Linked DNA regions of Homo sapiens. The protein of the gene in region 1 interacts with the protein of each later gene in a pairwise test. Each region holds a gene or a part of one and is shown in the gene's direction. Other genes may lie near its edges.

Region 1 (4,291 bases):
AAAATCCTCCACACAGGAGAACTCCACAGAACTTAGGTAGCTATTCCCCTGCAAGGAGATAAAGCAAAACTTCCCTTTTCTTTACGTATAGGCTACAGGTAGCGACTTCCAGAAAGCACAGTAGAGAAAGAGGTGGGAAAATCACTTTATGGTGGAGAAACCTAATCAACACTGCCCCAGCCCGGTGACCAGGACTAATAGCAGCAGTGATAAGCCGGCTTGATGGTGTGTACTCTAGACAGGATGGGATGGGAATGGCGCTTTCCCGCTGCAATCTTCCTGACAAAAACATATAATTCCAGTCAGATCACAAGGAATACATCACACGAACTTCAGGAGAGGACATCCCACAATATATCTGATCAGTATTCAAAGTGTCAGAGTCATCAAAAACAAGGCAAGTGTGAGAAACCGTCGCAGCCAAGGGGAACCGTGACGAGTTGTAAGGTGGTACCCTGGATGGGGTCTTGGGACAGAAAAGGTATGTGAGGTGAAAGCATAGCAAAACCTCACTTCAACAGGAAATACAACCCAAAAAAGTAATTGGCCCGGCATGGTGGCTTGCGCCTGGGGTCCCAGCGACTCGGGAGGTTGAGCGGGACGGACGGCTTGAGCTCAGGCCTTCCAAACAAGCCTGGGCACATAGCGAAAACTCGTCTCTCCAAAAAAATCCGAAAATTATCCCGATGTGGTGGCGCTCACCTGTAGTCCAGCTACTCCGGAGGCCGAGACAGGAGAATCACTTGAACTGATTCTCCTATCTCAGCCACCCCCCCCCAACCCCCCCAAGTAGCCGCAGCGAGCCGAGATGGCACCGCTGCACTCCAGCCTGGGCTACAGAGCGAGAACCAGTCTCTGTAAAAAACACAAGGATGCAAACCAACCAAATAACCCACTGTGGGATCCCCTCCAGCGTCCTGCTGTGTTTCCCGCTGTCTTCCTCCACCCGTGAGTGCACCCACAGCAATAAAAGCCAGCGGTGTGGGTCTCACACGCATCTCCAGCCCCGTCTCACACGCACCACCTCCGGGCCTGGACTTGGCCTCCCGTCCATTCCCAGAATGTGCCGGGCTCCCTTCCAGTCCGGGCCTCAGCACACTCTCTTCACTCCCCTTCCTCCCTCCCTGCCTCTCCCAACCCGGTTCAGGATGACTAATTTCAAACGTTATGTTCCAGATTTCAGCCCAGATATCCCCGCTTTGGATGCTTTCCTTGACCATGCTCAGATCTAAGCTAATCGCATCTTCCTGTCAGCCGCTTTCAGGGCACCACACCTCATTGTGCTGACACTCAGAGGTCATTATGCAATTTTTTTTCCTCGATGATTAGATTAATCAATCAACCACGGACGTCTAGAAATGGCGGCATCTCAGAAGGGCCCCCATTTGACTGGCAGGGGACTGGCCCAATGCGCCTCGCAAGCCCAGCCAGGCCCGCCCCAGCCGGCCCCCCTCTGACGACGCCTGTCCCTTACGCGACTGCCTTGCTGCCATATAAGAGGGACGGCGCTCGGCCTCCAGCAGTCGGCTTTCTGCTGGGCTCGGAGCCAGAACCTGCTGCGTGCTCCCTCCAGACTCCCTGGCTGCGGGTGGACTACCTCAGAGCTACAGCGGTGAACCTGTGGACACCTCCGACTCCTCGGGCCTCTCTTCGTCGAAGAGTCTCCTAATTTTCAGATCTCCGGAGCCAGCTGTGGGAAGATCAGGTGTGTGTCTGGGGGTCCCGGAGGCGTGGACGGATCTCGGGTGGGTGCAGTTGGGGACAGAATCCTCATTCCCCTAGAAAGGCCACGGCCATCCCCCTGCCTTGTCACCTCTGTCTTCCTAAATCCGTTCTTGCTCTCTTGTTTTTCTCCCCAGCCCCTCCCGCCGATTGCTCATGGAGGAACCAAGGCCTTCGAAGCGACTTCGCTCCATGGCCCCTAATCAAGGTACATCAAACGCCTGCCACTCCTCTCTTTTTAATTTCGTCTGTTCCCCAATTCTTCCCCAATGGTTGACACTCAAACTCAATCAAGCATTCTCTGTTTCACCTTCTCCTAGCCTGCCTCAACCTGGGCTGCTTGTTGGAAGTCAGCTCCCGGGTTCCACATCATCTGGGAAATTCCTTTCCCTCTTCCGAACCGTAATCCCATTTCCCAAATCTGAGATTTGCTGTTGTTGTCGCTGTTTCCTTCTGTTTAGTTTTGTATTACTGTTTCTCCGTAGCAGAGCGAGTCCTCACGCTACGTCTTGATCTATGATAAACCGGTACTTCCACCTTGTTCTTTCCCGGAGGAGTTGGAATTTTCCGGCTGTTGCCACGTTGTTCTCCAAAACTTTTCCCTTCATACGCTGAGTGTCCTAAATCTTTTAATCTTGTCTAGTTTGACAGATGCATAACAATAAAGCATCCACTGAAAGGAAATTCTTTAACATCTTGCTTGTCTGAAACATCTTCATTCTCCCCTCCCAGATTCTTCAGCGAAACTTCGGTTGGACAGGAAATTTTAGGTGGGAAATTCATTTCCCTTGAAATTTCGAAGACATTTTCTGTTATGTTCTAGACTGAACTGCTGCTTTTGAGATGTCTGACTTTTGAGACATGTGGAATCCTAGCCCTTTCCATGTGACTTTTCCTTTCTCTGTCTCCCGCTCTCTAGAATCTGTTAGAATCTTCTCTTTTTCCTCAGCACTCTGAAATTTTCTGGTGAAATGTCTCAGCCACAGCATACCTCTAATTCTCTTATATTTCATCCTTCTTTCCATCATTTTAGGTTTTTGCTTTGTTCTGTGGGAGACCTTCTCAACTTCATTCTCCAACTTCCGTGGAGAGTTTTGTTTCTTCTCTCACAATTTTAACTTCAGAAATCCCTCTTTTCTCTGAGTATTTATTTGTAAAAGTATCCTATAACTGCTTGACGGGTGAAGTTCCTTCTGTCTCTCTCTGCTCACGCTCCGCTTCTCTTTTAGCCTCAGGTGGGCCTCCTCCAGAGCCAGGCTGCTGTGTTGCGGACCCTGAAGGCTCCGTGGAAGCAGATGGGCCCGCACAGCCAGCCCAACCCGCAAAACCCATCGCTTACGTGAAACCCTTCAGACGGCAGCCCCCAGCTCGCCCAGAGTCACCCCCTCCTGCAGAGAGAGGCCGGCGCCGGGGAGGAAGCCGGCGGCCAGGGCGAGGCCGTGGCAGAAGGGCTGGGCCCCGCGGGGACGCTGGCCAGAGACAGGGGGCAGAAGGCTTGATGGCACCGGACGTGCACATCCAACTGGACCACCATGGAGAGCCAGGCCACCAGGGGGAACCGGAAATCACGGAGACCGCAGCCTTCTCCCTTTCTGAAACAGGTCCTCCGCCTGGAACTGTGCAGGAAGGCCCTGGCCCCGACGTGGCGCAACCTGAGCTGGGGTTTCAGGAGCCGCCCGCTGCTCCTGGGCCTCAGGCTGTTGACTGGCAACCCGTCTTGACCCTCTATCCCTGCATCGGGTTTAGGGCTCTGGGTGACTCAGCGGTTTTACAAGTCATTCAAACCCCCCAGGGCACCTACGTGCAAGGGGTCCCAGTGTTCCTCACCGACATTGCGTATTGACCACTATCTGCCACCCACGTTGTTCCCAGCCTCCCTTCCTTCCACCTGGACGTTCCCCCCAGCCCCACTTCTGCTCCACTCCTCCCCCGACTGGACCTGAAGCCTGAGCTTCCCCTGAACTTGGAGTACGCAACTTACAACATGCAAGCTGCCAAACACCCTTTCTGTACAAGGCGATTGGAATGGAACTGTCATGTACAGTGAAAGTACACGTCACGTTTTTCAGCCAAGAAGAAGCCAACCCAGACAACCTGGAAGAAGTGGGATGCAACAAGGATCACTAAGCATGGAAATTAGGAAACTGTATTCTTAAGTCCAGAGAAGTACGATTCTGGAAAAAGGATTGATGACCTAGAATTAAAATTCCAGAAGACACTCATATAGACATGTGGGACATGCGAAAACTCAGAAGGAGCTAGAAGTTACTAAAGTGCTTCTCTAGTGCCTGGAGACGATAGACTGGCTGAATATAAGAGCAATAAAAATCTAGACTGACACATTTTTAAGTCTCAACGTGGGTACCCTTTGGGAACCACTAAATGAATTGGAATAGAAGGTAAAATTTCAAACAGATTGAGGAAAAAGGGGATCAAAGGACATGTGACGAATCAGACAAAAGGTGTTGGGGTGGGGGGGGGGGCGGTTAACGGAAGCAAGGAGAGTGCATGACTCACTGGAACCGCTAAACCAGGAATCAGTAATTTGACGGCAGTGTCCTTGGCTTCC
Region 2 (3,500 bases), on another chromosome or scaffold:
TTCATGTTCCCATGTAATTCTGACAACCCCATGAGGTCAGTATTATCATCACAGGGTTTATGGGTGAGGAGACTCAGGCTCAGAGAGATGTTACTTGCCTAAAGATGTAGTTAGTGGCCAGGCGTGGTGGCTCACGCCTGTAATCCCAGCACTTTGGGAGGCTGAGGCGGGTGGATCACGAGGCAGGAGATCGAGACCATCCTGGCTAATATGGTGAAACCCCGTCTCTACTAAAAATACAAAAAATTAGCCGGGTGTGGTGGCGGGCGCCTGTAGTCCCAGCTACCCCGGAGGCTGAGGCAGAAGAATCGCTTGAACCCGGGAGGCGGAGGTTGCAGTGAGCTGAGATGGCGCCACTGCACTCCAGCCTGGGCGACAGAGCGAGACTCCATCTCAAAAAACAAAAAACAAAAACAACAACAACAACAACAAAAAGATGTGGTTAGTAAGTGGCTGGGTCAGATCTGAAGCCAGAGGCAGCCTGCCTTGGAGTTCATGTGCGAGAACACATTCTGCAAACCTCAGAGCCACATGTGCTATGGTGATGATGATGACAAGGACAAGGACTTGCCCTTTGTGTGACCTGAGCCCTGCCTCCCTTTGACCTGTCCCCCTGCTGGGCTCCAGTTCACAGATGGGGCATGTGGACTCAGCCAGTGAATGGTGACCTCTTGCCCTCCCCTCCCCAGAACCAGGCCGAGGCACATTATAAAGGCCACAAACACGCCAGAAAACTCAAGGCTGTCGAGGCTGCCAAGAGCAAGCAGAGGCCACACACCCAGGCCCAGGATGGGGCTGTAGTGTCCCCAATCCCAACGCTGGCCAGTGGAGCCCCTGGAGAGCCACAGAGTAAAGGTCAGTCCTGAGCTCTTCTCTTTCCCACGTCTCCACTCCAAATCTGGTTTCCGACAAGGGGTTGAGAGATTTCTGCTTATTCTTTTTGCTTGTGTTGGAGTATTCCATACAGACAGGCAAAGGCACACAAGTGTACCACGCCATGAATTTTCCTAAGCTGAACACACCCAGATCAGGAAACACGTTACCAGCACCTCAGAAGCTTGTCTTGCACCTCCTCCTGGTCATTACCTTGAAGTATTCATTTCCAAGGGCTGCCTTCACAAATGACTTCATTTGTGAAGTTAGGAATGGTGGCTCACATGTTGTGATGGTTAACACTTTGGGAGGCTGAGGCGGGAGGATTGCTTTAAGCCTGGAGTTTGAGACCAGTCTGGGAAACATGGTGTGACCCTGTCTCTACAAAAAATTTATTTGCCAGGCATGATGATGCACACCTGTAGTCCCAGCTACTCAGGAGGCTGAAGCAGGAGGATCTGCTTAAGCCCAGGAGGTCGAGGCTGCAGTGAGCTATGGGTGACAGAGCAAAACCTTGTCTCTAACCTCCCCTGCCCACCCCCACCCCCAAAAAAAGAGACTACAACCTGGGTGACTGAAAACAACAAAAATTTATTTTCACACAGCTCTGGAGGCCAGAAGTCTGAAATCAAGGCGTTGACAGCATTGGTTCCTTCTTGGGGGCTTAGAGGAGAAAGTGTCCCATGCTTCTCTTCTGGCCTTTGGTGGCTGCCAGTATTCCTTGGCACTCCTTGGCTTATAGACGCATCACTCCAATCTCCACCTCCATCTCCACATTCTCCCTTGTGTGTCCCTGTGTTTCCACAAGCTCTTTTTATAAGGGTACCAGTCACTAGATCAATCCCACCCGAACCCAGCATGACCTCATCTTAACTAATTTTATCTTCAAAGACCCTGTTTCCAAATAAGGTCACATTCTGAGGTTCCAGATAGATGTGAATTTTGGGGGAGACACTATTCAACTAACTACAACCCCTCTGATGGTAAATACGATCCTGACTTTTCTCAGCATAGATCAGCTTTACCTATTTTTGGTGAAACATAGAGTGTGCAGGGGTTTTTTTGTATCTGTTTTGTTTTGTGGGTTTTTTTTGTTTTGTTTGTTTGTTTTTTGAGACAGAGTCTCGCTCTGTCTCCCAGGCTGGAGCACAGCGGTGCAATCTTGGCTCACTGCAACCTCTGCTTCCTGGGTTCAAGCCATTCTCCTACCTCAGCCTTCCAAGTAGCTGGGACTACAGGTACCTGCCACCACGTCCAGCTAATTTTTGTATTTTTAGTAGAAACGGGGTTTCACCATATTGGCCAGGCTGGTCTCGAACTCCTGACCTTGTGATCCACCCACCTCGGCCTCCCAAAGTGCTGGGATTACAGGCGTGAGCCACCCTGCCTGGCCGGTATCTAGTTTTTATTCATCTCTCACAAACATTCATCAACATTCATTATATCTGTAAGATTCATCCATGTTTTTGCGTGTAGCTGTAGTTTGTTCTCTTTCATTGCTGTGTAGTACTCCACCGTGGATCATACCACTATTTTTTTTTAATTTAAATTCTTAAAAGCTCTTTTTTTTTTTGAGACAGGGTCTGGCTCTGTCACCCAGGCTGGAGTGCAGTGGTGTGACCTAGGCTCATCCACCTCCCTGGCTCTCAAGCGATTCTCCTGCCTCAGCCTCCCAAGTAGTTGGAACTATAGGCATGTGCCACCATGCCTGGCTAATTTTTGTATTTTTAGTACAGATGGTGTTTCGCTGTGTCACCCAGTCTGGTCTCGAAGTCCTGGACTCAAGTGATCTGCTAACCTTGGCCTCCCAAAGTGTTGGGATCACAGGCGTGAGCCACTGCGTCTGGCCCATACCACTGTGTTTTTTTTGTTTGTTTGTTTGTTTTTGAGATGGCGTTTCACTCTGTCGCCCAGGCTGGAGTGCAGTGGTGTGATCTCAGTTCACTGTAACCTCCACCTTGCAGGTTCAAGCGATTCTCCTGCCTCAGCCTCCCGAGTAGCTGGGATTATAGGCATGTGCCACCACGCCTAATTCTGTATTTTTAGTAGAGATAGGGTTTCACCATGTTGGCCAGGCCAGTCTCGAACTCCTGACCTTAGGTGATCCACCTGCCTCGGCCTCCCAAAGTGCTCGGATTACAGACATGAGCCACCGTATCCAGCCCGCACCATTGTTTTTTAAAAATCTGCTCTCCTGTTGGTGGACATGTGGGTAGTTTCAGTTTTATGATATTATGAATAGTGTTCTCTGAACATTCTAGTACATCTTTTTTGGTGATCTCTGTTTAAGTTAGCAAATAAGGATATGAGGGCTGTGAGGGCTTTCTGAGACCACTGTGTCCAACTTAATGATTTCAGATGGGGAAACTGAGGCCCAAGTCTGCCCAGTGAGTTGGTAGAAAAGTGGGGCCTGGAATTCAGTGCTGGTCATCCACCAGGGGCCCTCCAGGCCACCTCCATGGTCAGAGCTGAAGATCGTGGTCTGCAGCGTCATCTTGGGTCTCACACTCTTCCATCTCTGCAGCAGTTCCTGCAGCCCCTCCTCTTGGGCCTCCACTCCAGCCACCACCAACTCCAGACCCTACATGCAGGGAGCCAGCCCACTCAGAGCTCTTGGATGCTGCCTC
Region 3 (3,500 bases), on another chromosome or scaffold:
CACAGAGATTTCCAAGAAAGGAGAACGTAAGACATCTCATTAGTAAAGCTTTATATTGGTTACATGTTGAAATAAAATTTTCGATCTATCGGGTTAAATAAATTTTATCCTTTTTCCTTTTATTTCCAGAGTCTTGCTCTGTTAATGCAGGCTGGAGTGCTCCTTTTTCTTGTTAAAGTGGTTCCTGGCACACTTGTAATCCCAGCACTTTGGGAGGCCAAGGCATGCTTTGAGCCCAGGAGTTCCAGGCCAGACTGGGCCACATAGGGTGACCCCATCACTACACAAAACTTAAAAATCAGCTCGGCGTGGTGGCGCCACACCTATGGTCCCAGCTACTTGGGAGACTCAGGCAGCAAGATCACTTGAGCCTGGTTGGTTGAAGCTGCAGTGAGCCATGATTACATTACTACACTCCAGCCTGGGTGACAGAGCGAGACCCTGTCTCAAAAAATAAAATGGCTCCTGGAAAGTTTAAAATTGTAGATATGTGGCTCTCAGTTATATTGCTGTTGGACAGCCCTGATGTAGACGGCTTTAGCTAACTATTACCAGCTGTGGAAAAAGGCAGGAGGTGGGTCCCTGAGGTGAGAGTAATAGCAGTTATAGGATACAGAGGCAAAAGGTAGAGTGTGAGGTGCTGATTGGTGGGTCTAGGGATGGGCCATGGTTTTGGTGGCAAGATGGACGCTAGAAATGTAGGTTTGTAGTTGTCCACTTAGAGAGGGGCTTTGGACTCTGAGGAAGAGGGTGAAGAGAGAGGAAGTCCCTGGAACTTAAATTGAGCCTGTATTTGAGATGGAGGAAATCCAGAGAAAGAGGCCAGTGATGGCAGAGGAGACTCAGATCTGAGTGGTGTACAAGCCAGAAGAAAGTACATTTCAGGAAGAAAAAGCCTCAGCATGCAAACAGAAAAATAGGGTTCTTTTTCAGTTGTGATGTGCACGCTGCCTTCTTAAACGGATGAGATTGGACTTCCCTTGGGCTGCCTTGGAGACCTAGTGCTGTCATTGTGGATTCTGGCTGCGTGCCGCTGCCTGACCCCGGAAGGGTGGGCTGTTTCCTCCACCTCAAGGGGTCCTGACTGCTGGGCTTTTGTGAGCGGCACATTCTTCCTGCCATCAGTGTGTCAACCTCCAGAGCTCTGCTGACTCCAGTTAATGTGCTGCTTCTGACATGCTGCCAACTGGAAGTCAGTATTTGGGAAAGAGAGAATAAACTATGTCTAAGAATGAAAAGATAGAGATTCTCTTGTGGAACCCTCAGGGGACTCAGTGACATGATGTTGCTACTCTGGACCCTTCTTTGTGTCCTCTGTACCAGGGAGGACTCCAGATAGGTCATACATGCTCATGAAGACGTTGCTCTGCTGGTCTCACATGGTCGGAAGGACTTGAGTGAAGTGGTCAGCAAGGAAACTTAGGTAGACATGGAAAATGGGCTGCCTGTGGGAAGCTCGCAGGTCTTTTGGAGGGAGGTGGCATTTAATTTGTTAACAGGATTCATGCATAATGGTTTAGCTGAAACCTTCTTCAAGTTCCCTTAAAGCCTTGGTCATCTCTGTTGTTTTTCTCCCAAAGAAATCTCTGCCAGTACATTTTTCTTTATGACATGCTTATTCATGTGAAGAAGTATGAGTGGTTTTCTAATCTGCTTTTTCTTTGTAGAACCACCACCACCTAAAATCCCCAAAATTGAGACCACTCATCCACCGTTGCCTCCAGCCCACCCACCTCCAGGTAAGCATCTGCTGAAGCAGCTTGGCCAGCTGTGCACATCGCCTCTGAATGTTGGACGCAGCAGGTCCTGGGAACTTAGAAAAGGGAGACTGGGGCCCAGATTGACAATGTCAGCCACAGGCAGGAATCTTTGCAAAATTGTTCTTGGGCTGGGCACAATGGCTTGTGTTTTTGATCCCAGCACTTTGGGAGGCGGAGGCAGGAGAATCACCTGACCCCAGGAGTTCGAGGTCAGCCTGGGCAACAAAGTGAGACCCTGTCTAAAAAATTAGCCAGGTGTGGTAGCACACACCTGTAGTCCCAACTACTTAGGAGTCTGAGATGGGAAGATCATTTGAGCCCTGGGCAGTCAAGGCTGCAGTGAGCTATGATTGCACCACCGTACTCCAGCCTGGGTGAGAGGGAGACCGTGTCTCAAAGTTCTGATTTTGACCAGGTATTTTGAGAATGTTGTAAATTGTTAAGTATATCTGAATATTTTCCGACCTCTCACATCCAGAAATGCTAAACTACACATTGTATTAGAATCAGTTTTAGGAAAGAAAGCCAAACCCCGCCTTCTGAGATAGAGGCAGGGTTACTGTGGCTACTAGGCTCCGGCCGCCCCTACACCTGCTTCCTATTGGCAGTGTGTCGTCTTAGTGCATTCTGAAGAATAAGCAATTGTACAGAGAGTAAATGAAAGAGTGAAAAGTTCTCAACAAGTAGTACATGGTAAGCTGGAAAGCCTCTCTGATACCGCTGGCAATAGAGGAGAAAAGCTGTAAAGTAGATGGCATTCTTTACCTGTGGCACCATTTCAGAAGGTGATGCGCTAGAGAAGGCCAGAGTGACCTGTGCTTGCTCTCCAAAAGGTGGTCGATACTCCGGAGGCTTCCAAGCCTCTGTCAGCAGCTCCTCCAGCCTGCTACACTCACTGTTGGTCGGTGCACGTGGCTCACACTGGGGCTGACAGCACTGTGTGCCCGTAACAGATGTGCCACAGATTACATTTCTGTTCCTACTCAATCATGATAGTGTTTGTGCTTTGGGAGAACAGAGGCGTCATTTTCCACTTTGGGGCCAAATCCCAAAACCCCCAATTCAATATGAACCTTACTTAAATGCCTGTGGTTGCTCATGAAGCATTTATGGAGCACCTCCTCGCCAAGTGCAGTTCCCCTGGTCCGAGCCTGGGGCTGTGCCTTCACTGAGGAGATGGGTGGTTTATCTGGGGAGCCTGGGGCAGCCACAGGGGTGCTGCTACCTCCAGGGCACTGAGTAGCTGCTGTGGAGGCCTCAGAGCTCTGCTCCCTCCCCCATTACAGATAGCCAGGAGTAGGCCTGGGACTTGAGTGGGACCTGGGTGCCAGATACACTGCCAGGAGGCCATGGCTGAAGAGAGCAGGGCCTGGGAGGCGCAGTAAAGCTGGGCCGTGAGGAAGGGAGGGAAGTACGCTTCCTGGGAGGCCCTAGGCCATGGGAAGAGGCATTCAGGTCAGCAGTGATGTTTAGGGAGCAGTTTGGTGGCAGTGTGTGGGACTTGGTCAGGAGCAAGTGTACAGAGAGGGAATGGGGTGCCCAGGAGAGACCCCCACTTGCTGTTCCAGCTCAGTCACACAGCACAAGGGCAGGCACACTGGTGACTTGAAGATTCAGGCTACAGGGTCGAGTGTTGGAAAAGTTGATTTCTGCAAGGTGGAGGAGCAGGCCTGTGGGCCCAGGTGGCTGTGGAGTGACACACAGGAGGCATTGAAGGGTGTCAGCACTTTTCTGCACCTC
Region 4 (2,211 bases), on another chromosome or scaffold:
CCATGTCCTTGTCGCCCAAACTCTGCGCGGAGAAAGAGGCGGCCACCAGCGAACTGCAGAGCATCCAGCGGTTGGTTAGCGGCTTGGAAGCCAAGCCGGACAGGTCCCGCAGCGCGTCCCCGTAGACCCGTCCCAGACACGTCTTTTCATTCCAGTCCAGTTCAGGCTGCCGTGCACTTTGTCGGATATAAAATAAACCACGGGCCCGCCATGGCGTTAGCCCTTCCTTTTGCAGTTGCGTCTGGGAAGGGGCCCCGGACTCCCTCGAGAGAATGTGCTAGAGACAGCCCCTGTCTTCTTGGCGTGGTTTATATGTCCGGGATCTGGATCAGATTCTGGGGGCTCAGAAACGTCGGTTGCATTGAGCTACTGGGGGTAGGAGTTCCAACATTTATGTCCAGAGCAACTTCCAGCAAGGCTGGTCTGGGTCTCTGCCCACCAGGCGGGGAGGTGTTCAAAGACATCTCCCTCAGTGCGGATTTATATATATATTTTTCCTTCACTGTGTCAAGTGGAAACAAAAACAAAATCTTTCAAAAAAAAAATCGGGACAAGTGAACACATTAACATGATTCTGTTTGTGCAGATTAAAAACTTTATAGGGACTTGCATTATCGGTTCTCAATAAATTACTGAGCAGCTTTGTTTGGGGAGGGAAGTCCCTACCATCCTTGTTTAGTCTATATTAAGAAAATCTGTGTCTTTTTAATATTCTTGTGATGTTTTCAGAGCCGCTGTAGGTCTCTTCTTGCATGTCCACAGTAATGTATTTGTGGTTTTTATTTTGAACGCTTGCTTTTAGAGAGAAAACAATATAGCCCCCTACCCTTTTCCCAATCCTTTGCCCTCAAATCAGTGACCCAAGGGAGGGGGGGATTTAAAGGGAAGGAGTGGGCAAAACACATAAAATGAATTTATTATATCTAAGCTCTGTAGCAGGATTCATGTCGTTCTTTGACAGTTCTTTCTCTTTCCTGTATATGCAATAACAAGGTTTTAAAAAAATAATAAAGAAGTGAGACTATTAGACAAAGTATTTATGTAATTATTTGATAACTCTTGTAAATAGGTGGAATATGAATGCTTGGAAAATTAAACTTTAATTTATTGACATTGTACATAGCTCTGTGTAAATAGAATTGCAACTGTCAGGTTTTGTGTTCTTGTTTTCCTTTAGTTGGGTTTATTTCCAGGTCACAGAATTGCTGTTAACACTAGAAAACACACTTCCTGCACCAACACCAATACCCTTTCAAAAGAGTTGTCTGCAACATTTTTGTTTTCTTTTTTAATGTCCAAAAGTGGGGGAAAGTGCTATTTCCTATTTTCACCAAAATTGGGGAAGGAGTGCCACTTTCCAGCTCCACTTCAAATTCCTTAAAATATAACTGAGATTGCTGTGGGGAGGGAGGAGGGCAGAGGCTGCGGTTTGACTTTTTAATTTTTCTTTTGTTATTTGTATTTGCTAGTCTCTGATTTCCTCAAAACGAAGTGGAATTTACTACTGTTGTCAGTATCGGTGTTTTGAATTGGTGCCTGCCTATAGAGATATATTCACAGTTCAAAAGTCAGGTGCTGAGAGATGGTTTAAAGACAAATTCATGAAGGTATATTTTGTGTTATAGTTGTTGATGAGTTCTTTGGTTTTCTGTATTTTTCCCCCTCTCTTTAAAACATCACTGAAATTTCAATAAATTTTTATTGAAATGTCTTTGGGCCTTGTGTTAAATGTTTTTTCTTTGGGAACCTTTCCTGAAGATGGACAGTCAGGGGAGGGTTTAGTATCTTCTTGTTCTGAGTTTACCCCCTTCCCTTCGCCTTTAAATAATTAAGACCGCCCCCAGCGAACCAAAATGAGATGTCACTCAAGTTACAAAGCTAAAAACAAAAGTCCCTTACTTGAGCGAAGGGAGCCACTTCAATCTGAAATTACTTTTCCTTTAAATTAGGGAGCAAAGCAGGGAGACGGAAAGGGGCCTGATGAGAATACAGAAAGAAGGGTAATTTCAGATACTTTTAAGTTTTAATGGAAAAAGACTGATGTGCTCCCTAAGTCAGGTTTTCCCACCCGAATCCGACCAAAAGTAAGCTCGGCAAGTACGAATGTTTTTCGTTTTAAGCTCGCCCTCAGTTTTGACATCAATCTGGCGAATCCAAGTCGAAAATACCTTCTTGCACCAGTGTGTTTGGCTCGGGGAAAAGGCCAGCAGA
Region 5 (3,500 bases), on another chromosome or scaffold:
ATTTTTTGCCCTTTAGCTTGTCAAAATAATGTCTAAAAAACCAGATTGATCACAAAAGATGCATCATAATGCCACATAAAGATGTCACTCGGCGCCTTATAGTATTTAGGACCATAGAGGACACCTGGTGCAGCCTCCTCATTTTGCAGCTGAGCAAGATCTTTGAAGGACAAGGACCTGCCCAAGGCCATCTAGAAACACTGAAGTTGAGACTCATACCCGAGCATCTTAGCTTTTGCCCACCCCACGCTGTTTCTCAGTCTTAACCAGCAAGCTTTCCTTGTTATTTTGGTTTGTCTTACGTCTAGGTTTGATTTGGCAGCACATTTCAACATCTGGTGAAGGCATGGGAATAAAACAGTGTAGGTGGATGGAGCACCTAAGAGCAGAATGTTTGGTGTTCTCTCAGGGTACACTGGGCAAGGCCTGCTGGGCCGTCCTTCCTCGCCATGCTGCCTGCGTTTATTCAGTTAAGAAAGTGGCACATTTTGTATCTTTGAGAATGCAACTATTTTAGTTAGGAGAGTGATGTTCCGTCTATGGAAGACTTTGCCTCTCTCCATCTTGGGCTTGGAGAAGGTGTCCCATGTCCCAGCAGCATGGCTGTGTACAGTCATTGATTCTTTTGTTTACTTCTCCATGCCGTACATTTTGTTCCTGTCCCTTGATCACAAAGAAATAAATGAACGTTCCTGAGGCACTGACATGGGCCGGGTGAGGTGGGAGCCTCCTTCTAGATATTATTATCCTATTTAAATGCATTATGTTCCCACTCATTTCACGATTGCCCAGTATTCAGAGAAGTTGCATTACACAACTGAAGCTCCATAATAAATGCGTGGAGGTGAGATTCAAACCCACGTCTTTCCCATTCTACTTTTTGTGCCTTTCTGTTTTAATTTGCTTCTTGGTATTCCTGTGTATTATTAATAGTCTGAAGCTTGGAAATAGATGCAATAGTCATTAGAGTGAAGAAAATACAGTGCCGTGCTCTCTGAAGGATAACAAGGACATTTTTGTTGTAATTACTATTTTGATTTTTCTTTTAAGAATGTTGCCGAGGAAGGAAAACAGAGGGAAAAACCAGCAAAGCTCACTGTGTCTAACTTTTGCCACATGCATGGACCTAATTTCTTACTTGCCAAGCACTAGAGCCTTTATTTTTGAGACTCTGTGAGGGTGGCTGAGTTCTGTGTGTTTGCTGGGGTTGGAAAAATCTAGTGTGATGGGGGTCAGTGGCCCCATGACACGCCAAGGCAGAGTAAGCCACAGAGCTCAGTCTGCCATAGGTGTGGCTTCCTTCCTTCCTCACATCTGTGTCAACACCCGGCAGGAGGTGCCTGATTCCAGTGGGGATGAAGCAGCCTCTGCCCATCCCTCCATCACCCATCAAGAGCTCTGGACACACATGAGGTTGAACCCCCAGATGGTGGCTGCCAGGGGAGTGTGTCCACCTCTCACTTAGGCCAGGTGCGTGGCATCTCACTGCGGCAGGCATCCCATGGGCGAGGTCGGTGCTCTCCTGATGTCTTTGATATTTTTCTTTATCTGGCCTAGTCTGAGACCAGTACTTTCCCCTGCCTGTGACCCCTGACTTCATTTGCAAAGTTTTCTCATGCACTTTCTGAAATTTTCATGACAGAGAGCCCTGGAGGAATTTGGGGCAACGATGGAGGTGGAAGAAGGTTTAAAGCTGGGAATCTTTATGCATTTTCTCTGTTTTCTCCTTCTCTTTATTTTTTTTCTTGACCTATACTTCACACTGGTCTCTGTCTTCTCCATGCTTAGAAAGCAGAGGAGGCTTGAGCTTCCAGCAAAGACCTTGCGACATGTTACTGGATACAGGCTGGTGCATAGAAGGGGTGGGTGGGGAGGGCTGACAGGAGGGTGTCCCTCCCCTGAGCATCACCGGCTCTGTTCTTGGCCAGTTGCTCTTTGTCCCCACATTTCAGGTTCTCTTCCTGCATTCAAGCATGGGCAGGGCCAGGGCTGCTGTTTCAGGACTGCATCTAGCCCTGAAGTTTTCTCTGGGCCTCCACAGGGGACCTTCCTACTCTGAACTCCACATGCATTCTCCAGGCCACACTGCACACTCACCCTACTCTCCAGTCATTTCCAACTACTTAGAATTCAGTCAGTGTTGAGAGTCACCAGTCTTATGTAGACTGGAGCCTGGCACATAGTAGGTGCTTTTTGCATGTTTACTGAGTGAATGAATGAACAGAAAATGAAATGCACTTTGCCTAAAAGCTGATCTGATCTGATCTGAGTGCCCAGGCATTTCACCCTTCTTCCAAAGCTCTCCTTTTGTTCCTGTGGCCCAGGGAATGCTCAGTTCCAGGCTTGGCAGAGGAGGGGTCTCTCTAGGCAGTGTGAAACAGACTGTGAAGCCCCCATGAGAAATAGTCCACCCACTGGGAAGGCCCCTCCGCTCCCAGGAAACTCCAGCCAGAGCACTCCAGCGTGGGGGCTAGGACTCCTCTTTTCCAAAGGAGAGTAGACAGTGGGAGGAATTCACCTCAGAATGATTTCCTGGAGCAGTTAGGAAAGTAGCATCTCTGAAGTCACAGAGGCTTCAGCTCCACTGGGCCGTGAGAATCCCTTACAGAATTCTGACCCCGACCAAGCAGAAAAGGGCACTGCCGCCTTTAAAACAGTTGACTGCAGAACAAAACAAAATGCTAAAATAAGACTAGAGTAGTTTGAAAATATTGGAAAGTTGAGAAAAAACTCCCCCAAATTCCATGATACTAGCATCATCATAGTATATAGCACATTACATATATAGTGTATTATATGGTATATTATGTATACATACTATGTATACTATATGTTATATGGTGTATGTACATAGTAAAAATTATTTTTCACATATCTATTGCTTTGGTATGTTTTCTTTCATGTTTTTGTTTATTTGGTAGATAGGCTTTTTTCCTGTTTTGTTTTACAACATGTTTATATCTGACACTAACATTGTATTATAAGCTTTTTTTTCCCATACTATTGCGTAGTCTTTATAGCCACACTTAAAAAATGAATCATTTATTTCTAAAAACAGTCAGGTCCATTTTATTTTGGCTTCTGGATCCTGCCCCTCCCCGGGCACTCTCCCACTGCAGAACTATGTTAGGCTCAGTTCCCCAGAGAGCCCTCAGGTTTTCCACACCACAGGCCCCATGCAAGCTTCTTGTGAACCCTGGGCAGTCCCTTCTGGGTCCTCAGAGCTCAGTTTAGATGCCACCATTGCCTGTTTGCAACACTGGCACATGTGCAGGTCCCTGTGTTCTGTACAGCTGAACTCAGGACTGCCTCATCACCACTGTCACTACCGCGCCTCGCACAGGGCCCGCATGCTGCATGCTCTCAGTGAATGCTTGCGGAATGAACGGAAGAGGGAATCAATGAACAAATGACCTGGTGGTCATTTTCTGTGTTTCCTCCTGGGGTTTTTCCTTTGGTGTATGCATTTTGTGTGTGTGTGTGCATAGAATAGGTTACAC
Region 6 (2,435 bases), on another chromosome or scaffold:
TTTCATCTCGGCTTCCTCTTCCGATGGTTAGCTCCCTTCTCTTGTTCATCAGATTCCCAAGAAAGAGTCTGATTGGGCCACGTTGATTGGGCCATTTCTCTTTCTCTCTCTCTCTCTCTCTTTCTGTCTCTACCTCGCTATTTGTCTCTCTTTCGCCAGCAACACAAGCCTATGGTTTGCCTGGCCTTGGTCCAATCTAAAGGTAGGAGAGCAGAATTCAATGTTTTCAACATATATCCAGGCCTATCTACTGAGGACTTTGGGCAGGGCATGTTCATTCAAAAGCTGGGTATGAGTAGGGGAGATAATGACGACTATTGCTAGAACAAGGGCATACAAATAAAGAGAGATGGATTGAGGATTTATTTACAAGCCTTTTAAGATGAAATGAAGTGAAATGGCATGTAATGACATGAAATGGCATGCTATATTTAGGAAATCTGAGTTCTAATCCTTTCTGGCCAACCAACTATGTCAAGTCAGGTAACCTCCCCGAGCTTCAGTTACTTCCCTATAAAATGGGAAAGTACCCCCCCCATCTAATGACATGATATATTGATGAACATATTTGCATAAAGCCTAAGATATATAAAATATAATCCATTATGATTAAATACCTTGGAATATCACCTTGTACCTATTTATGTTTGCCTTGGCATCTGGCAAGGTAAGACTGCAGGGCTTTGGGGAACTTGTAGAAACCATAGCAATCGCTAAGAAGAAAACAGATTCTAGAAAAGTAAAGCTGTTGAAGGCTGGGCACGGTGGCTCACACCTGTAATCCCAGCACTTTGGGAGGCCGAGACGGGCGGATCATGAGGTCAGGAGATCGAGACCATCCTGGCTAACACAATGAAACCCCGTCTCACTAAAAATACAAAAAATTAGCCAGGCATGGTGGCGGGCGCCTGTAGTCCCAGCTACTTGGGAGGCTGAGGCAGGAGAATGGTGTGAACCTGGGAGGCGGAGCTTGCAGTGAGCCAAGATCGTGCCACTGCACTCCAGCCTGGGTGACAGAGCAAGACTCTGTCTCAAAAAAAAAGAAAAGTAAAGTAAAGCTGGCTGTGCATCTCTCAGAGAAGCTGGGGAAGCTGGGTGAGGTGATCACTGCTCCAGCTCATCCCTACGTCCAGGTGGGAGATTAACTGAGTCTGAAGCTCAGGTCACAGATAGTCCTTATCTGCAGAAGAGAGGTCTCTCTTGAGTCTTAGTGGAATCCCTAGAAATTATTATAATTGCAATTTAAATAATACACCATTTGGTAGCAATGAGGAAAGAAGGAAGAAAGCCAGCACCTGATGCATCTGACTCTGGGTAAAACCCCCTTCTTTTAACAGCTCTGGGGGACTAAATATTATGATGCACAATTCCCATTCAGACTGCCTTAGAAACTTTTTTTCCTTAAGTGCTCATATATTTATATGCATTAATCTTCCTGTAGTGCTGGATCATAACATGTCTATCAATCTTGACAGAAAGAGTAGGATAAACAGAAAGGGGTCATGAATGGTCATTTCATCTGAGCATCCTGAGATAGTCGAGGCTTTCTCCGAGAAGGAGCAAACTGTCAGTGACTTACTTGACAAGGAGGTCACTACATTTGGTTTTCCCTTGCCACCCCTCAACATTAATAAACATTTACATAGAGCCTACTACATACCAAACTATTATAAGCATTTTGTAAACGTTAACTCATTTAACCTCCATAAAGGTGTAGGTAACAGGGCTGCGGTTTAAACACTATGCTACCTTCTAGCCAGAGGGTACAAGAGACCAGTAGTCCAATCATAGAAGGTCTGAGCTTGAGGATCATCTTTCCCAACGTCTACATTTTACAATTTAGGAAAGCAAGGCAGCTTGACCCAGGCTTTACAGCTCACATGCATCTGACAGTTACTAGCGACTAAAATCCCTGTCTTTTAACTCCAAGGCCTAGTGAATTTCCATTGCAACACACTCCCTTGCTCTAATGAGATCTGCTTTCGTCTTCCTTGCAGCTGAGCCAGTTCCAGCTGTTGGAACAAGAGATTACAAAGCCCGTGGAGAATGACATCTCGAAGTGGAAGCCCTCTCAGAGCCTACCCACCACAAACAGTGGCGTGAGTGCTCAGGATCGGCAGTTGCTGTGCTTCTACTATGACCAATGTGAGACCCATTTCATTTCCCTTCTCAACGCCATTGACGCACTCTTCAGTTGTGTCAGCTCAGCCCAGCCCCCGCGAATCTTCGTGGCACACAGCAAGTTTGTCATCCTCAGTGCACACAAACTGGTGTTCATTGGAGACACGCTGACACGGCAGGTGACTGCCCAGGACATTCGCAACAAAGTCATGAACTCCAGCAACCAGCTCTGCGAGCAGCTCAAGACCATAGTCATGGCAACCAAGATGGCCGCCCTCCATTACCCCAGCACCACGGCCCTGCAGGAAATGGTG
Region 7 (3,500 bases), on another chromosome or scaffold:
GCTAGATCAGGGGAAGAGGGACATCTTTTTCTGATTAGATATACAGTAGTTTAGTTGGAGTAAAATGTGCAAATTCACTACAGACCCCACGGAGATGACAATGTTGCCCAGCGCAAACTCTTCACTTTCAGTGTATTGCCAGATTTAGAAAGGAAAGGAATAATCGTTGGACCTTATTTTTTCCCCTATTTTGAGCATCAAATACTTTTGATTGAAACTTCCTCTTTTGTCATCAGGAGGAAAACCCAATTGTCCTTCTCTGCTTTTTATTATTATTATTATTATTATTATTATTATTATTATTATTATACTTTAAGTTTTAGGGTACATGTCCACCATGTGCAGGTTAGTTACATATGTATACATGTGCCATGCTGGTGTGCTGTACCCATTAACTCGTCATTTAGCGTTAGGTATATCTCCTAATGCTATCCCTCCTTCTCTGCTTTTTTATTCTAAAACGACAACCTTTTGAAAGCAGCAGGGAATGAATAAACTCCCTGTACATCAGTCCAGAGTAAGCAGCCAGCCACCCCCAAATCAAGTAGATATTTTTTCTCTCTTTTTTTTTTTTTATTGTTGTTTATCCAAAATATTTTCCTGCCATTCTCATCAAGTATGTTTCAGGGGTTAGTTAACACCTCAGCTGCATACAATGGTTATAGTACCTGCAAAGCCATTGAAATCAAAACCAAACTTGTCAGTTGGTTAAGCTAATTCAAGGTTACTATTTTGAAAATGAAAACTGGATTTACCACCAAATGGAAACACTGCCCTGTACTGTCATAAAATATAGTAGTCAGTCAGCCATTTGACCCGGTTAGTACTTAGCCTATCTTTATTCTTAGTTTTGAAAAGACTTGGAATTATTATATGGCCATATTTTAAAGTGTAATTTAGGATTCAGTGATACTCTCAAAGAAATTATACTATCAAGAGTTAAACTATTTTATAATTCCCGTTCATGCCAGATTTGGAAGCCAACTTATCTGAGAATTTACACATCTTTTATTATCCCATTTCTTTACATACACGCATCTTTTTTTCCTCTTTTTTTTTTTTTTTAAGCCAGACCAGCTTTCTTTAAGTTAGTCTAACTCCTCTTTCCACCGAAAGACCTCAACTATTATATTCTTCCTCAATAGGATGCTCTTCTCTTTGTGAGCCCCACGGGAGTCATTTCTACAGCAAAGCCTTCCTGACCTGCAGAGGATTGATCTTGCCTCATCATATTCTCTTACCTTCCTGTACTTTCTACAACTATAAGGAAAATAATAAATTTTGTAATTAGATATTTAATGTATATTCCCTGACTGAATATAAGCTGCAAAGAGACAGGAACTATAACTTTCTGTATTCACTCACTACTATATATTTATTAAGGAATGAATGCAACATTATGTACATAGTAGGAAATATACAAACAAACAGCTCTCGCATTCCAAGGCAGATTACTTCTAAGCATAAACATTTTCTTTCCTTTGAGAGGCCAAAGCCTTTTGGCGTATAGATCATTTAAACTTAGGGAAGAATCTTTGGCAATTCCCCTTCTAATTGAAAATGCTTGGCCAGGAGTGGTGGCTCACACCTGTAATCCCGGCACTTTGGGAGGCCGAACCGGGCAGATCACGAGATCAGGAGATTGACACCATCCTGGCTAACACGGTGAAACCCCATCTCCACTAAAAATACAAAAAAAAAAGCTAGCCGGGCGTGGTGGCGGGCGCCTGTAGTCCCAGCTACTCGGGAGGCTGAGGCAGGAGAATGGCGTGAATCCGGGAGGTGGAGCTTGCAGTGAGCCGAGATCACACCACTGCATTCCAGCCTGGGCGAAAGAGCAAGACTCTGTCTCAAAAAAAAAAAAAAAAAAAGAAAATGCTGGTTTCGTTTTCGAATTTTGGGATAAAGCTAGCTAATAAATTTTATATTAGATCAACCATCCTTGATCCATTTATCAGTGTATTCCTATTTGTGAGTTATTTATGGTAAGCTCACTTTCCACTCCCTGATCTGAAGTTCAAAAAACTGGTATAAATGCTTGGAAGAAACTCAATGAAAACGGTTGTTCTAGTTCAATAGGATCATAACCATATCTGTGTTTATATAGGCCCTGAGAATAACATAATGGTATTCAAGTATCTTCAGAGAATAATGCTGGGCCAACAAGGAGTTTGAGATTGTCCCTACAAATGATATGGCTTGACCAACCAACCTAATGTTGGATGATGCTATTTAAACAGAAGTTTACGAAAGGAATAGAAAAAGAAACTCTATTATTTGCACTGTAACCTGAGTTTATACTGTAAATAGAATAAATTCACATTGGCTTTCTAGATTTGGAAAAATCTATATTTATACCTATGCAATACAATATCTCTTCCAATGGTAACATTTCTAAGGGAAGAGATATTGCCTCTTTCACTGTATGCTTTAATAAATGTAACAGCCCATATTGAGGAACTCTTTACATGTGTAAGGAAGAACTATTCAACAGTGAGCTATTTGCATTTAAGATAGGGAGTTACGGGTGAGTAATGAACTCATTCGAAAGATTCTAAGATCTTACTTAGATGACATTTGAAGGCAGGTATAAGGCCATTTGGTAGGGATATCCTAGTTCCAGTTTATCGGTCTTTGTGCATTCGCGTTGAGTTGAGATGACTATTTGCAGATAAACACACTTCATCTGCAAATAGATTTTTAAATCACTATTAAAAAAAAAAAAACGCTATTACTACTGAGGGCTGCCAGCACGCTGTCACCTCTCAATCCGAACATCAGAAGGAACAAACTCCGGACACACCGCCTTTGAGAACTGTAACACTCACCGCGAGGGTCCGCAGCTTCATTCTTGAAGTCAGTGAGATCAAGAACCCACCAATTCCGGACACATTACCACTTCTATTACACATAGCCATACTGACAGAATCCAAGTTTTAAACCATATCTAAAATGTGAATTAGCATAAACTATTTTTATTTAAGCTTCAAACTTGTCTTTTTTAATCCCAGCTAAATTCACACCAAAATTAATAGTGAAAAGAAAGGGGGAAAACAATTTGGGTTATTATTACTAAAGCAGACTGTATCATGGGAAGTGACGTCTTTGTATGTTATTGAAATTGATTTATTAAGAGAAAATCGTAATACGCATTTACAGTAATTGTGACCTCTGCTATATTTTGTATAGTAGGTGGCCATATGTAGGAAAGGGCATACATTATAGCACAATTTAAGTTATATCAAATCTGAGTTTGAGTCACAGATCTGTACTTCAGTAATTATGACCCTGGCTAAGTTAGTCCATCTATTTGAATCTCAATTTTCTCATCTATGAAAATAGATAGAAATGCTGTCTCTTTTATAAGATTGAGGTGAAAGGTAGGAAAAAGACATCAGTATGTCAAGGTTTCAGCACAGTGTCTGGCACATAGTAGTTACCCACTCCATGTTTATTAATATTATAATTTTAATTATAATTAAATGTTTAATCAAAGGAAT

What was found.
Region 2: the proteins of PRR20A (region 1) and ZNF385C interact in a two-hybrid assay, tested with the Homo sapiens proteins (one large-scale study listed by BioGRID).
Region 3: the proteins of PRR20A (region 1) and CCNK interact in a two-hybrid assay, tested with the Homo sapiens proteins (one large-scale study listed by BioGRID).
Region 4: the proteins of PRR20A (region 1) and TBX3 interact in a two-hybrid assay, tested with the Homo sapiens proteins (one large-scale study listed by BioGRID).
Region 5: the proteins of PRR20A (region 1) and ZNF488 interact in a two-hybrid assay, tested with the Homo sapiens proteins (one large-scale study listed by BioGRID).
Region 6: the proteins of PRR20A (region 1) and NEDD9 interact in a two-hybrid assay, tested with the Homo sapiens proteins (one large-scale study listed by BioGRID).
Region 7: the proteins of PRR20A (region 1) and SOX5 interact in a two-hybrid assay, tested with the Homo sapiens proteins (one large-scale study listed by BioGRID).

What each region holds. Positions count from the first base shown.
Region 1 is NC_000013.11:57,139,427-57,143,717, forward strand, and holds the start of PRR20A (proline-rich protein 20A), read left to right. Parts: upstream 1-1,491; 5' UTR 1,492-1,705; intron 1,706-1,859; 5' UTR 1,860-1,878; coding exon 1,879-1,930; intron 1,931-2,951; coding exon 2,952-3,565; 3' UTR 3,566-4,291.
Region 2 is NC_000017.11:42,028,974-42,032,473, reverse strand, and holds part of ZNF385C (zinc finger protein 385C), read left to right. Parts: intron 1-689; coding exon 690-855; intron 856-3,397; coding exon of another isoform or gene 3,398-3,400; coding exon 3,401-3,500.
Region 3 is NC_000014.9:99,505,409-99,508,908, forward strand, and holds part of CCNK (cyclin-K), read left to right. Parts: exon of another isoform or gene 1-1,667; coding exon 1,668-1,739; exon of another isoform or gene 1,740-3,500. UniProt on the Homo sapiens protein: Regulatory subunit of cyclin-dependent kinases that mediates activation of target kinases.
Region 4 is NC_000012.12:114,669,755-114,671,965, reverse strand, and holds the end of TBX3 (T-box transcription factor TBX3), read left to right. Parts: coding exon 1-125; 3' UTR 126-1,711; downstream 1,712-2,211.
Region 5 is NC_000010.11:47,370,794-47,374,293, reverse strand, and holds part of ZNF488 (zinc finger protein 488), read left to right. Parts: intron 1-3,500. UniProt on the Homo sapiens protein: Transcriptional repressor. Plays a role in oligodendrocyte differentiation, together with OLIG2. Mediates Notch signaling-activated formation of oligodendrocyte precursors.
Region 6 is NC_000006.12:11,185,234-11,187,668, reverse strand, and holds part of NEDD9 (enhancer of filamentation 1), read left to right. Parts: intron 1-1,997; coding exon 1,998-2,435. UniProt on the Homo sapiens protein: Scaffolding protein which plays a central coordinating role for tyrosine-kinase-based signaling related to cell adhesion. As a focal adhesion protein, plays a role in embryonic fibroblast migration.
Region 7 is NC_000012.12:23,537,171-23,540,670, reverse strand, and holds part of SOX5 (transcription factor SOX-5), read left to right. Parts: intron 1-3,500.